Homo sapiens: one gene and its partner. The protein of the gene in region 2 purifies or fractionates together with the protein of the main gene of each other region. This does not show direct contact. Each region holds a gene or a part of one and is shown on either strand. Other genes may lie near its edges.

The links. Proteins that work in one complex are often made in the same cells at the same time.
Region 1: the proteins of SPNS3 (region 2) and CLCC1 purify together in Homo sapiens (affinity purification with mass spectrometry; 4 studies listed by BioGRID and IntAct, with this or other methods). This does not show direct contact.

The regions. Positions count from the first base shown.
Region 1 is NC_000001.11:108,960,485-108,967,395, forward strand, and holds the start of CLCC1 (chloride channel CLIC-like protein 1 isoform 1 precursor), read right to left. Parts: upstream 3,001-6,911; 5' UTR 2,877-3,000; intron 1,986-2,876; 5' UTR 1,825-1,985; intron 1-1,824. UniProt on the Homo sapiens protein: Anion-selective channel with Ca(2+)-dependent and voltage-independent gating. Permeable to small monovalent anions with selectivity for bromide > chloride > nitrate > fluoride.
Region 2 is NC_000017.11:4,436,923-4,443,949, reverse strand, and holds part of SPNS3 (protein spinster homolog 3), read right to left. Parts: intron 4,293-7,027; coding exon 4,227-4,292; intron 1-4,226. UniProt on the Homo sapiens protein: Sphingolipid transporter.

The DNA.
Region 1 (6,911 bases), on a different chromosome or scaffold from region 2:
AGCCTAATTCTCTAAGTGGTTAAGAAGTAGGTGACAAAGGGAGTGTGTAAACTGGAGAGAGGCTCCAAGATGGGAGTGCATGAAATTAAGGTTACGGGAAGGGTTCTTCATAGGCAATGAGGTTATATACTCCATAAATAGAAATGAATGAAGATGGATGAAGACAAAATTTCTAAAGTAAAAAGAGAAACTGACAGATTTCATATTATAATATGATATGAAGTGGACAGAGAAATTAAGAGTAATTTGCATTTCTAACACTGTGAGGAGGTTAGGATGGGGGAAACGGAGATTTGGAGGGGAAAAAAGGTACTACAGGAGGCATTATACAAAGGGAAGTGAATAAAAAGCCTGTCAAGCAGTTGAGATTTTTTTTTCTTTTTTATAGAGACAGGGTCTTGCTATGTTGCCCAGGCTAGTCCCGAACTCCTGAGCTCAAAGGATCCCCCTGCCCGCCGCCTTGTCTTCCCAAAGTGCTGGGATTACAGGTGAGCCACTGTGCCAGCCAGGCAGTTGAGTTTTGACTGTGACATCCACAAAGTCGTACTATTGGCAACTATGTTACTTTCTACAGTAATAACCAGCAGTTCCATAGATTTCTCCAGGGATAGAGATTAGCAATGCAGAAATGATGGAAGACAGGAGGGTAAGACAGAATAGAAGAATCAGCTAGAAATTCAAGCCCTCCTGCCAGATCCCCATGGTCACTGATTGAAGGCTGGAACTCCTTGAGAAATCCTAAAACGAATCTCACACTTCCTCCAAACAAAGCTACATCTAAACCTGCTGAAGAGTTTGTTAAAAAAAAAAAAAAACGATTCTGATTCAGTAAATCTGAGGTAGGTCTGAGATCTCCACTTCTAACAAGCTCCTGGTGATGCCGCAGACCACACTCTTGAGTAGCAAAGTGTTAATCGAAAGTAACCATCCTAGCTAGTTTCGTTTAATGGTGGCACCTATGTCATTCTAGTACTTGTCAGGGGACACTACTCTTTCTCTCTCCCGCAGTCCCTACTATTTTTACCATTTCTCTCCTGTCTCAGGCTTCGGTACTAATAATTTTTAAATTATAATATGTATAATAGTAGCTAAAGGCCGGGCACGGTGGCTCACGCTTGTAATCCCAGCACCTTGGGAGGCCAAGGCGGGCGCATCACCTGAGGTTGGGAGCTCCAGCCCAGCCTGACCACCATGGAGAAACCCTGTCTCTACTAAAAATACAAAAGTAGCAGGGCGTGGTGGCGCATGCCTGTAATCCCAGCTACTCGGGAGGCTGGGGCAGGAGAATTGCTTGAACCCAGAGAGTGCAGGTTGCGGTGAGCCGAGATCGCGCCATTGCACTCCAGCCTGGGCAACAAGAGCAAAACTCCGTCTAAAAAAAAAAAAGTAGCTAATATTTTGTTACTATGTGCTAAGCACTGTTACATTAATTTAATCCTCACAAAACTACTGGAAGTAGTACTCTTATCTTCACTCATCTTCATTTTACAGATCACACAAAGTAACTTGCCTAAGACCACCAAGCTAGTAAGTGGTAGAACCCAGACTGGCTCTACCTAAACTGCCTCTCCAGGGCAAAAGTACTAATGGCTCTCAGGGGCTTCTCTGAGAGGATAGGGTCTTAGAGTGGAGAGGACCTGTTGGAACGACATCTCCACAGAGCGGGAAATAGGGAGAGTAGTTTATAGTAGCTACTAGACTGGAGAACTACCAGGAAACACAGATCGTCGTGCAGACGGCCAGGCAGTGAGTAGAAATGGGCACAAAAGAAAAAGTCTTTGGTTTCAACGAAAGCACATGAGTAATGGGAAAGGCAAGACTAACCTGGATTAGTAGAGTCAAATCCTGTTTTAGACTAGAAGTACCAGGGTATAAGTCGGGAGGCTGCAACTTATTTCGTATGCTTATGCAGTTTCTTGGAACCATGGCTCTCAAACTTGCGAATTTGCATTTTTAACAATTTCCCAGATGACGATAAAGCTAGTCTGGGAAGAACACTTCATAATCACTATTATAAAGAAAACCTGAATTGTTTTTCACCACCCAGTAATAAACCTACAGCTTATGGTGTGTCTAACTTTTTACACTCAAATCAGATTTGGAGCCAGGCGCAATGGCTCACGCTTGTAATCCCAGCACTTTGGGAGGCCAAGATGGGAAGATCCTTTGAGCCCAGGAGTCAGAGACAAGCCTGGACAACACAGGGAGACCCCTTCTCTACAAATAAAATTTACAAATTAGCCGGGCCTGGTGGCGCGCACCTGTGGTCCCATCTACTCAGGTGGCTGAGGCAGGAGAATCGCTGGAACCCGGAAGGCGGAGGTTGCCGTGAGCGGAGATAGCACCACCGCACTCCAGCCTGGGTGACACAGCAAGACTCCGTCTCAAAAAAAAAAAAAAAATCCATTTTGGAGGTTGTTTTGTGTCCGTTTTTGTTGTTGTTGTTAACTGTGTTAATTCACAGATTTGAAGTTTTAGAAAATTAACTACAACTAAATCCGAGCTATTCTGCTGACAGCATTTATTCAAATTATGCTTAAAGTTTTCAGAGATAACCAAAGCCAACAGAATTCAACGTGCGCTCAGGTCTCGCTTTGCCCTCGCTGTGCCTTCTCCGTAGGCCGCTCTCTGGGCCAAGCACCTCCCCGGAACGCGCGCAACCGCGGCGGACAGGCAGCCGCCGGCGCGGGAGCTGAGGTAGGAGCCCGGGGCACCCACAGGCCGCAGCGGACGCACGCAGCTAGCACGGTCCCCGCCCCGGGTCGCGCCTGCGGCCTCCCCAGCGTCTGCGCCGCGAGTCCGCTGGACCCGCCAGGGCGTAACGGCGGGTAACCCGCCCCACCCGCCGCACAACACACCCAACTGCACGGACTCACGTCCGGGATCCCCTGCCTGCCTCTCGAGGAAGACACCTGCCCAGGCCGGCCGCAGAAGAGGTCGCACAGCTTGCCGCCGCCCAGGGTTTCAGCGTGCTTCCTGGGCCTCGTCATCGAATTGTTCGGCTGACGGCTGCGTGTCCCTCCCCCGTTGCGGGCCGCTGATTGGCCTCGTTGATTGGGCGGGGCTAGTAGCGGGACCGGCCTCTGCGCGCGGGTTATTTTCGCCGCGGATTTTCTTTTACTTTTCATCTGCGGAACTCTTTCTGCGAAGGAAATCTCGCCTGGAACTCAAATATATACAACGGATAGGAAACCTATTTTCTTACTATTAATATATTTGATAAGTTTGAATGTGTAACATTCGCCATGAAACGCAAGCATGATTTTTTTTTTTTTGAGGCAGAGTCTCACAGTGTTGCCCAGGCTGGAGTGCAGTGGCGCGATCTCGGCTCGGCTCACTGCAACCTCTGCCTCCCGGGTTCAAGCAATTCTCCTCTCTCAGCCTCCCGAGCAGCTGGGACTACAAGCGCGCACCACCACATCCAGCTAATGTGTATTTTTAGCAGAGACAGGGTTTCACCATGTTGGCTAGGCTGGTCTCGAACTCCTGACCTCAGGTGATCCGCCCGCCTCGGCCTCCCAAAATGCTGGGATTACAGGTGTAAGCCACCGCGCCTAGCCACAAGCATAATTTTTTAAAGGGAGGATCACGAATGACAACTGTAGTTCTACTCAGGGCAGGACAAGGGAAAGGTCTGCACACTGTAGGGCAGTTGGAAGTAGTTTTGTTTTTGTCTTTAACTGCTGGCCTTGCAATCTCGGGAAACTGTGAAGATGGTAAAATTTACTATCTTAACCATTTTTAAAGGTACAATTCAGTGGTATTAGATACATTCACATTGTTATGCAACCATTACCACCATCCATCTCCAGCACTCATCTTGCAAAACTGAAACTCTGTACCCAGTAAGTGGTAACGCCTCATTCTTCCCCTCCCTCCTTCCCAGCGACTACCATTCTTTCTGTCTTTATGAATTTGACTACTCTAGGTATTTCATATAAGGACTCATACAGCATTTGTCTTTTTGTAACTGATTTCACTTACCATAATGTCCTCAAGGTTCATCCATGTGGTAACGTGTCAGAATTTCTTTTAAGGCTGAATAGTATTCCATTTTATGTATATACCAGTTCATTCAGTCATCTGTTAATGGATAACAGGTTGTTTCCACTTTTGGCTACTGTGAAATAATACTGTAAACATGGATATACAAATATCTGTTTTTTAACCCTTTTGGGTATACACACAGATGTTCAAATATCTGTTGCTTTCAACTCCTGAATATATATACACAAGTGGAATTGCTGGATTATGTAGTAATTCTATTTTTAATTTTTTGAGGATCTGCCGTACTTTTTTTTTTTTTGAGATGGAGTTTCACTCTTGTTGCCCAGGCTGGAGTGCAGTGGTACGATCTCGGCTCACCACAACCTCTGCCTCCCGGGTTCAAGCGATTCTCCTGCCTCAGCCTCTTGAGTAGCTGTGACTACAGGCGTTTGCCACCATGCCTGGCTAATTTTTGTATTTTTAGTAGAGATGGGGTTTCACTATGTTGACCAGGCTGGTCTCGAACTCCTGACCTCGTTATCCACCCACCTCGACCTGCCAAAGTGCTGGGATTACACGCATGAGCCACTGCGCCCGGCGGAACTGCCATTCTCTTTTCCATAGTGGCTGCAACATTTTACATTCCCTCCAAGAGTGCACAAGTTCCAATTTCCCCACATCTCCACTGACATCTTTTTATTTTTGTATAGTAGCCATCTTAATAGGTGTGAGGTATCTCACTGTGGTCTTGATTTGCCTTTCGCTAATGACCAGTGATGTTGAGCATCTTTTCTTGTGCTTATTGGTCATGCCATTTGTATATGTTTGTTGGAGAAATGTCTATTCAAGTCCTTTACCCATTTGTTTTGTTTGTTTTATTTTGTTTTGTTAAGAGACAGGGTCTCGCTTTGTCACCCAGGCTGAAGTGCAGTGTCATGATCATGGCCCACTGCAGCCTTGAACTCCTGGCTTTGCCCATTTTTTAATGGGTTTTTGTTGTGTTTTGGTTCCTTATATATTCTGGATATTAACCACCTTATCAGATAGGATTTGCAAATATCTTCTCCCACTTTTTCTTTTCTTTTTTTTTTTAGAGACAGGGTCTCCCTGTATTGCCCAGGCTGGTGTCAAACTCCTGGGTTCAAGTGATCCTCCTGCCACAGCCTTCCAAAGTGTTGGGATTACAGGCATGAGCCACCATGCCCGGCCCCATCTTCTCCCTCTTAGTGGGTTGCCTTTTCACTCTGTTGTGTCCTTTGGCTTCTTACTATAAAACGAAAATAAAATTCTAAGCCCCCCAACCAACTGAATAGGCCCATCCTCTCAGCCAAGGGCATTCTAAAGTAAACCTGAGGCCAGTTGCAGTGGCTCATGCCTGTAATCTCAGCCCTTTGGGATGCCAAGGCAGGTGAATCACTTAAGGGCAGGAGTTCAAGACCAGCCTGGCCAACATGGTGAAACCCTGTCTCTAGTAAAATCACAAAAATTAGGCAGGCAAAGCGGTGGGCCCGTAATGCCAGCTACTTGGGAGGCTGAGGCAGGAGAATCGCTTGAACCTGGAAGGTGGGTGTTGCAGTGAGCTGAGATCATGCCATTGCACTCCAGCCTGGGTGACAAAGCGAGACTCTGTCTCAGGAAAAAAAAAAAAAACAGAGACCTTAACACTGACACACTTTGTAGCAGTAAGATACCAATGTGACAGCAGGTCCATCCCCCCACCCCCACCTCTGAGTTGTCCCATCTTTCTGAACTGAACCAATGTATATTTAACATGTATTGATTGATGTCTTACGCTCCCTAAAATGTATATAAAACCATGCTGTAGCCCAAACACCTTGGGCACATCTTCTCAGGATCTCCTGAGGCTATGTCATGGGCCATGGTCACTTAAATTTGGCTCAGAATAAATCTCTTCAAATATTTTACAGAGTTTGACTCCGTCGACATTACAATTTTGGAAAAGTAAACATTTTAAAAATAAAATTTGGGGGCAGATGTGGTGTCTCATGCCTGTAATGCTAGCATTTTGGGTGACCAAGATGGGAGGACTGTTAAGAGGCCAGGAGTTTGAGACCAGCCTAGGCAACATAGTGAGACACCCATCTCTATAAAAAAAATTAGCCCCACATTGTGGCATGTGCCTGTAGTCCTAGCTACTCGGGAGGCTGAGTGAGGCAGGAGGATCATTTGAGCACAGGAGTTCTAGGCTATAGTGAGCAAGACTTTGTCAATATAACACAATGCAATAGAAAAATTAAACATTTTAAAAATAGAAATAATCTCTCAACTTGAGGCAACACACACACACACACACACACACACACACACACACACACACACATAAAATTGGAACAGACCTCTAAATGTCCTCCCTGGGAATAATTAAGAACCTCTGCACTACCCATCCACCCCAATTCCCCTTCCTTGCACTGCCAAATGAGATGGACCCCAAGAGTATAGATACTTCAGTCCTCTCATTTTCTCTTTTATGTGAACCTCAAAGAACCTAGTCACCCCATGCAGAAGACATGTGGAGACAAACAAAAAAGGACATATGTAACCAGCTATTTACTGAAGCAAATATAACAATTTCTGGTGCTTATTATTTTGAGAGGGAGTCTTGCTCTGTCGCCCAGGCTGGAGTGCAGTGGCACAATCTTGACTCACTGCAACCTCCACCTCCCGCATTCAAGCGATTCTCCTGCCTCAGCCTCTCGAGTAGCTGAGATTACAGGCACATGCCACCACAGCCGGCTGATCTTTTTTTTTTTTTTTTTTTTAAGACAGGGTTGCACCATTGTTGACTAAAAGAGTCAAACTCTGTAAAATATTTGAAGAGATTTATTCTGAGCCAAATATGAGTGACCATGGCCCGTGATACAGCCCTCGGGGTCCTGAGAACATGTGCCCAAGGTGGTCAGGGT
Region 2 (7,027 bases):
TTTGTAGTTTTTGCACAGACGGGGTTTCACCATCTTGTGCAGGCTGGTCTCGAACTCCTGGGCTCAAGGGATCCGCCCACCTCGGCCTCCTAAAGTGCTGGGGTTACAGGCGTGGGCCACTGTGCCCGGCCCACTGTCCATTTTTCTATTGGGCTGTTGTTTGTTAATATGTTTTGGAAATAAGTTCCCATAGTCTTTTATATTTGTTTTAAGAATTAGAAACGCAACTTCTGGGACTAAGTTGGCTGGGTTTAAATCCTGGCTCACCACTTTCTAGCTATGTGACCTTTGGTAGATTCCTTAACTCTTCGTGTTCCCCTTTCATCAACAGTGCTATTCCCTTGTTTGGTTACTGAGAGAATTAAGTAAAATAAAGCACATAAAAGTTATCTGCATAGCTTCATGTAAATGTCCAATAAATGTTATCTATTATTATTACTGATTGCATAATTTCAATCACCATCATACGGAAGTGTTTAGCTTTGTAGTCAAATTTATTAACCTTCTGGAGGGGCAAGTGTTATTTCATATCTTGTTTATGCATATCTTCTTTATCCAAAAGTTATAAAACTATTTCCCAGCTGGACGCGGTGGCTCACGCCTGTAATCCCAGCACTTTGGGAAGCCAAGGCCGGTGGATCACCCGAGGTCAGGAGTTCGAGACCAGCCGGGCCAACATGGTAAAATCCCATCTCTACTAAAAATACAGAAGTTAGCTGAGCATGGTGGCGGGCGCCTGTAATCCCAGCTACTGGGGAGGCTGAGGGAGAAGAATTGCTTGAACCTGGGAGGTGGAGGTTGCAGTGAGCTGAGATCGCACCACTGCACTCCAGCCTGTGTGACAGAGCGAGAGTCTCTCTCAAAAAAAAAAACAAAAAGCAAACAAACAACAACAAATATGTATATATCCTCATATTCCTCACATGCAGGGATCACTTGCAGGCTGTTTTAAGTGCCTTAAACCTGCAGACGCTCTGTGAATCTGCAGATGCCCTTCCCAAGGGGAAAACAGACACTCCTCATTCCCAAGGTCTCCTAATTCAAATCATTTCTGTGACACAGTGGGTGAAATGAATGCTCCCAGAGTTAAAAGACAGACTCTGGAGGCACACTTCCTGGATTCAAATCCCAGCTTCAGCAAGTCTCATAACTTCTCTGAGCCTCAGTTTCATCATCTGTAAAATGGACATAATAGTAAAACCTGCCTGGTGGGATTGTCGTGAAGATTAAATAAGTTGATATTTAAAGCACTTAGAATCGTGCCTGACATGTGGTAAGGGCCAAGTCAGTGTTAGTTTTAAATATTATTAATTAATGAACTCACTCCAGCAGCTTCTCTATCCCATGGGTGGCTGGAGGGAGCCTGACCACTGCCTCTTCTCACTTTCCACTCCTCTTCTCTTTTTTTGTTTTTTTTTTGAGACAGTCTTGCTCTGTGGCCCAGTCTGGAGTGCAGTGGCACGATCTCAGCTCACTGCAACCCCTGCCTTCTGGGTTCAAGTGATTCTCCTGCCTCAGCCTCCCAAGTAGCTGGGATTCCAGGCACCTGCCACCACACCTGGCTAATTTTTGTATTTTTAGTAGAGACGAGGTTTCACCATGTTGGCCAGGCTGGTCTCAAACTCCCGACCTCAGGTGATCCACCCAGCCTCCCAAAGTGCTGGGATTACAGGCGTGAGCCACCGTGCCCAGCCCAACCCCTCTATCTCTTCAACACCCTCTCTCTCAGTCATCAGTTTCCTCTTCTCAGCAGCCCTGTGGACAGACAACAGGCTGGGTCTAGGGCCATAGCACGGTAACCGGAAAAGGTAAAGAGACTCACCTGAGGCCACCAGAGACCAGCCTGGTCATCAGGCCTCTAAGCCCACTGTCCTTTCATGAAATTTTTGAGCTGCTTCTGCAAAGATGACCTTTCTCTTCACCTACTGCCAAACACACACACACACACACACACACACACACACACTTCTCCCTCCGTGGCCCAGGACTTGTAGTAATAATCTTGACCACTACGGTAAGAACCATACTATGGTAAGGGCCAGTGTGGTGGCTCACGTCTGTAATCTCAACACTTTGGGAGGTCAAGGCTGGTGGACCACTTGAGGTCAGGAGTTCGAGACCAGCCTGGCCAACATGGTGAGACCCCCCCCAACACACCCCCACCATCTCTATTAAAAGTACAAAAATCAGCCTGGCATGATGGCAGGTGCCTGTAATTCCAGCTACTTGGGAGGCTGAGGCAGGAGAATCACTTGAACCCAGGAGTCAGAGGTTGCAGTGAGCCGAGATCATGCCATTGCACTCCAGCCTGAGCAATAAGAGCAAAACTCCGTCTCAAGAAAAAAAGGAAAAAAAAAGAACCAGTGAAGGGAAATGTTGACTAAACCACCATTATCTATTTAATCGAGAAGGTTGTGGGTGTTGAACCAAGATGGTCTCACTTTGGCCACAGATATGGCTGGAAGATCAGCATCAGCTGCTGTCTCTTGGCCACAAGATTGAGGGGCAATTGGAAACCATGCATGTTCTAAAGCCATGATCTTCTAACTGTTGCTCACGTAACTCTTTTGTCTTTTTTTTTTCCTTTCTGTGGAGAATAGGGTCTCACTATATTGCCCAAGCAGGTCTCGAACTCCTGGGCTCAAGCTATTCTCCCGCCTCTGCCTCCCTAAGAGCTGGGATTACAGGCGTGAGCCACTGCACCTGGCTCTCATGTCACTCTTAAAGAAGTTTCTAGAACTATGTACTCCTCCACACATTTTCAGCTAACATTAAAATGTTCTTATCCCAAGTTTGAATCGTTGCCAAGGATGGGATTTCCAGCGTTGTTGTGTATTTTTTTAAACTGTATTTTCATCCAAACTCTTGGAGCTACAGGGTTGAGTTTATTCAGTTTATGGGAAATGTCTACAGTAGAATCTAAGTAATAATGCCTGTCCTCTTTTGCCAAAGCAATTAGACGTCAAACTGATTATAAGAAAAATGTTGGCTTCATTTTCTTTCATTGAAAGAAATGTGTTGACATGCATCCCTGAGACCGCTATCTCACTTTGAATTCTAATTTGTAGATAAATAGTAGACACTGCACACGGGAACAGCTAGATAAGGCTTGGCTCCTTGCCTGCGCTTGTAGCCTGGGGCAAATCTCCCCAGCACGTTTCTCTTGATGCTCTCTGCTTTGCTCCCAAGGTCCCCCTGGGAAAAGCCGAGCATCCACGCAGGGGCCTCTGTTTGATACCCCAGAGGTTTTTACACCCAGGAGCAGCACATCCAGGATGCGGAGAGGAGTCCCTTTCTGTTTACCATGGTAGACAGGGAATTGTACAATGGAAGGAGAGGAAGGAGAACCACAGGCCGACCACAGGCTCCCCCTCAGGCAGGTCATTTTAGGAAAAAAACATACAGGCTTGAGAATCTAGAAATAAATCAGTCTCTCAAAACTCTCTGTGTTCATGTAACCCCTGGAAAGTGACTGTGTATCCCCAGGGATCCCTGTACCCCGGTTTAAGAGCCATGTTCTAAAGCCCTGAGATGATGGACTGTGAGGACCCTCGGTGCCTGCTGGTTACAGCCTGGGTGTGTGCACAGGCGTATCACGTGTTGTGACCATGTGTGTGCACATGTGGGTGTGTGGATATGCACACTGTGGGTGTGTGTCACCATCCAGGCACCCACAAGGGAAAAGCTAACGCCTCATGACCCCAACCGCTCTGATGTTGCGATGGGACGTGTGGCTGCTCCCTGCTGCTGGGTGTCAGGCTGTCTGTGGGCCCAGAGTCCATCTGAGCCCATGTGGGGGGATGTGCCTGTCTGTGTCTGTCTGTTTGACTTTGTGTGTCCCAGTAGTCAGATTTTTCAGTTCTGTGAGAGGAAAGCACACATCAGGATTTCTCAAAGCCCAGCAAGCCTCTGGTGCACCGCTGAGCCTCACCAACACGAAGGGAAGGAATGGCCAGCTCCACAGCGAGGACCTGAGGCTGAGGGACCTCTCCCAGCCCCACCTCCCCCTGCTCTCCCGCGGCACCCTACACTCAAACTACCATGGCTGTTCCAGCCCAGGCTCTCTCCTGCTCCTGCCTAGACTGTCCCTCAGGCCCATACCCCACCCACCCTCTGTGCCAGGGGACCCAGTGGGGCTGGAGCTGGGCACAGAACATGACCCACAGAAAGAGCCCACCCCAGCATGAACCCAGGGCCCCGGCTCCAGAGCCAGGGCTCCTCCTTACCAGTCTGAAGCAAACCAGCATGGTTGTCACTGATCTGGAAAACCTCCTGTATATCCAGCAGCACTCCTGCAGACAGAGGGACAGTGCTCAGGAAACGGGAAGTAGCCCTCCTGGCCTCTAAAGGCAGCTGCTCCAGGTTTGGCACAGGGCCACAGCTGACCAGCACAGCACAGGGCATGGCACCCAAGCCCACTGTTCTCTCCCCCTCTCTCCCATACAGCTGTACAACCACACACACAAGAGCAGGCACACAGAGAAACGTGTGCATTTCAAACACTCAAAGAAACAAGCATCCCTTGGCTGGGCACGGTGGCTCACGCCTGTAATCTCAGCAGTTTGGGAGGCCAAGGCTGGCGGATCACCTGAGGTCAGGAGCTTGAGACCAGCCATGGTCAACGTGGTGAAACCCCGTCTCTACTAAAAGTACAAAAAATTAGCCGGACGTGGTGGCGGGCGCCTGTAATCCCAGCTACTCGGGAGGCTGAGGCAGGAGAATTGCTTGAGCCTGGGAGGTGGAGGTTGCAGTGAGCCGAGATCGCGCCATTGCACTCCAGCCTGGGCAACAAGAGCCACGCTCCATCTCAAAAAAAAAAGAAAGAAAAAGAAAGAAAGAAGCATCCCAAAGGCACAGACATTCACACACACACACTGACACATAAGCACGCAGCCACACGGCTCCTTCCCTCCTCTTCATATGGGAACACAGATATAGATACAAACAGGCATTCCCAGAGAAACACACCTGCAGAGGCACAAATACACACACACACACACACACACACAGGAACTCACTCTCACAGACATGTACACCCAGCCTCACTCATACACCCAGACACACAGACACATGTGCAGTGAGATGTGCACCCAGAGGCCTGCCCGCGTATGCACAGGCTCAGGGCTGCCATCCACACTGCAGTCAGAGGAGCGGCAGCCCCCTGTCGCTGCTCAGTGCACAGCCCTTTACTTAGGCCACTGTGTAAACGGAAGTCCCTGGAGCTGTACAGCACAGTGGCCTCGCTCATGCACAAACACTGGAAATGCATAGGTGAACATGTACATAAAAAGACGAACGTGTCCTGGCTTGCACGCATGTGCACACACAAGCCTGTTCTTCCAGAGGCACAGCAGTGGGCACCCAGCCTAATGTAGAGAGAGAAAGTGGGTCTCCCAGACACCAGGGTCTGTTTCCTGATAGCCTCTTGGTGTCCTAGAAAGGGTCGGGGTCTGCAGCACCTGCTCACGTGAGCCATGCGGCTCTGGCCCTGTCATTATTATGAAGAAGAACAATCCTCACTTTCATCAGTCAGGAGGTGACTGACAGCCAGGCCCTGAGCTGTACACTCGCAGTTGTCATCCTAAAAGAGGGGGACTGTCATTGCCCCCATTCTACAGATGAGGAAACAGAGGCTTTAGCGGCCCAAGGTTGCCCGTCTGAAGCTGGGGGAGCTGGGGCTCAAATCTCAGCCAGAGGCAGCCTGTCCACACACCCAGAACCACAGAAGGGGAGCAGAAGCCCCCAAGTGGGTCCCCGCAGAAACACCCACACCAAGAAAGCCCTGCGTGCACACCTCTAAGAGCTGCCCCATGCACATGAAGATCAAGGGATCAGAGGAGCAAAGCAAAAAATCCTTGCTCAGGGAGGGACGTGGTGGCTCACGCCTGTAATCCCAGCACTTTGGGAGGCCGAGGCCGGCAGATCTTGAGGTCAGGAGATCAAGACCATCGTGGCTAACACAGTGAAATCCCATCTCTATTTAAAAATACAAAAAATTAGCCAGATGTTGTGGCACAGGCCTGTAGTCCCAGCTACTCAGGAGGCTGAGGCAGGAGAATCGCTTGAACCTGGGAGGCGGAGGTTGCAGTGAGCTGAGATCATGCCACTGCACTCCAGCCTGGGCGACAGAGTGAGACTCCGTCTCCAAAAAAAAAAAAAAAGAAATCTTTGTTTAGACATTTAATTTGTCCCCAATTGCCACTGCAACCTGGCATACAAACTGTTATGTCTTTTTCCCCTTTTAATATTTTGTTTTTTATTTTTATTTTATTTATTTATTTTTGAGACTGAATCTCACTATTTCATCCAGGCTGAAGTGCAGTGACACGATCTCAGCTCACTGCAACCTCTGCCTCCTGGGTTCAGGCAATTTTCCTGCCTCGGCCTCCCAAGTAGCTGGGATTACAGGTGCCCGCCATCACGCCTGGCTAATTTTTGTATTTTTAGTAGAGACGGGGTTTCACCATTTTGGCCAGTCTGGTCTCGAACTCCTGATCTCAGGTGATCCACCTGCCTCGGCCTCTCAAAGTCCCCCTTTTATTATTTTAAATACACAAAGAAGACAGTCATTGGAAAGAAAAAAAGGAGACAACACAGGTAAGCAAAATAAATAGCTAAACGAAAATGCTCCAAATTGTGCCCATCTTCCATTTTCAGGAATGAGGACTCATCCCCTTGTTTTCTCTCCTCCTGGGCTCCTCTCAGCCCCATGGTACTCTAGAGGTGATCCAGAGCCAAGCGTGCACCCACCCTTGCTTTCATCTGTAGCCTACCACCCTGGCCCCATAAGAGCTGTTTCCTGCAAGAACATTTTAGCTGTTTACCCCCACCAGTTCCCAGATGCTCAGCACGGTTTCACTTCTCCAGGTCTCTATCCCCACAGTAACCACAGCCCCCTTTCTTGCACATACAGAGGAAGTGCTGATGGAGAAGGGACCTGGACAGGCAAGACTCAGGGTCTTAGGGCCCAGCCAGGGACCTCCAGGGCTAGCGGCAGAGATAGCGGGTCCCCAGGCTCGTGGGTTCA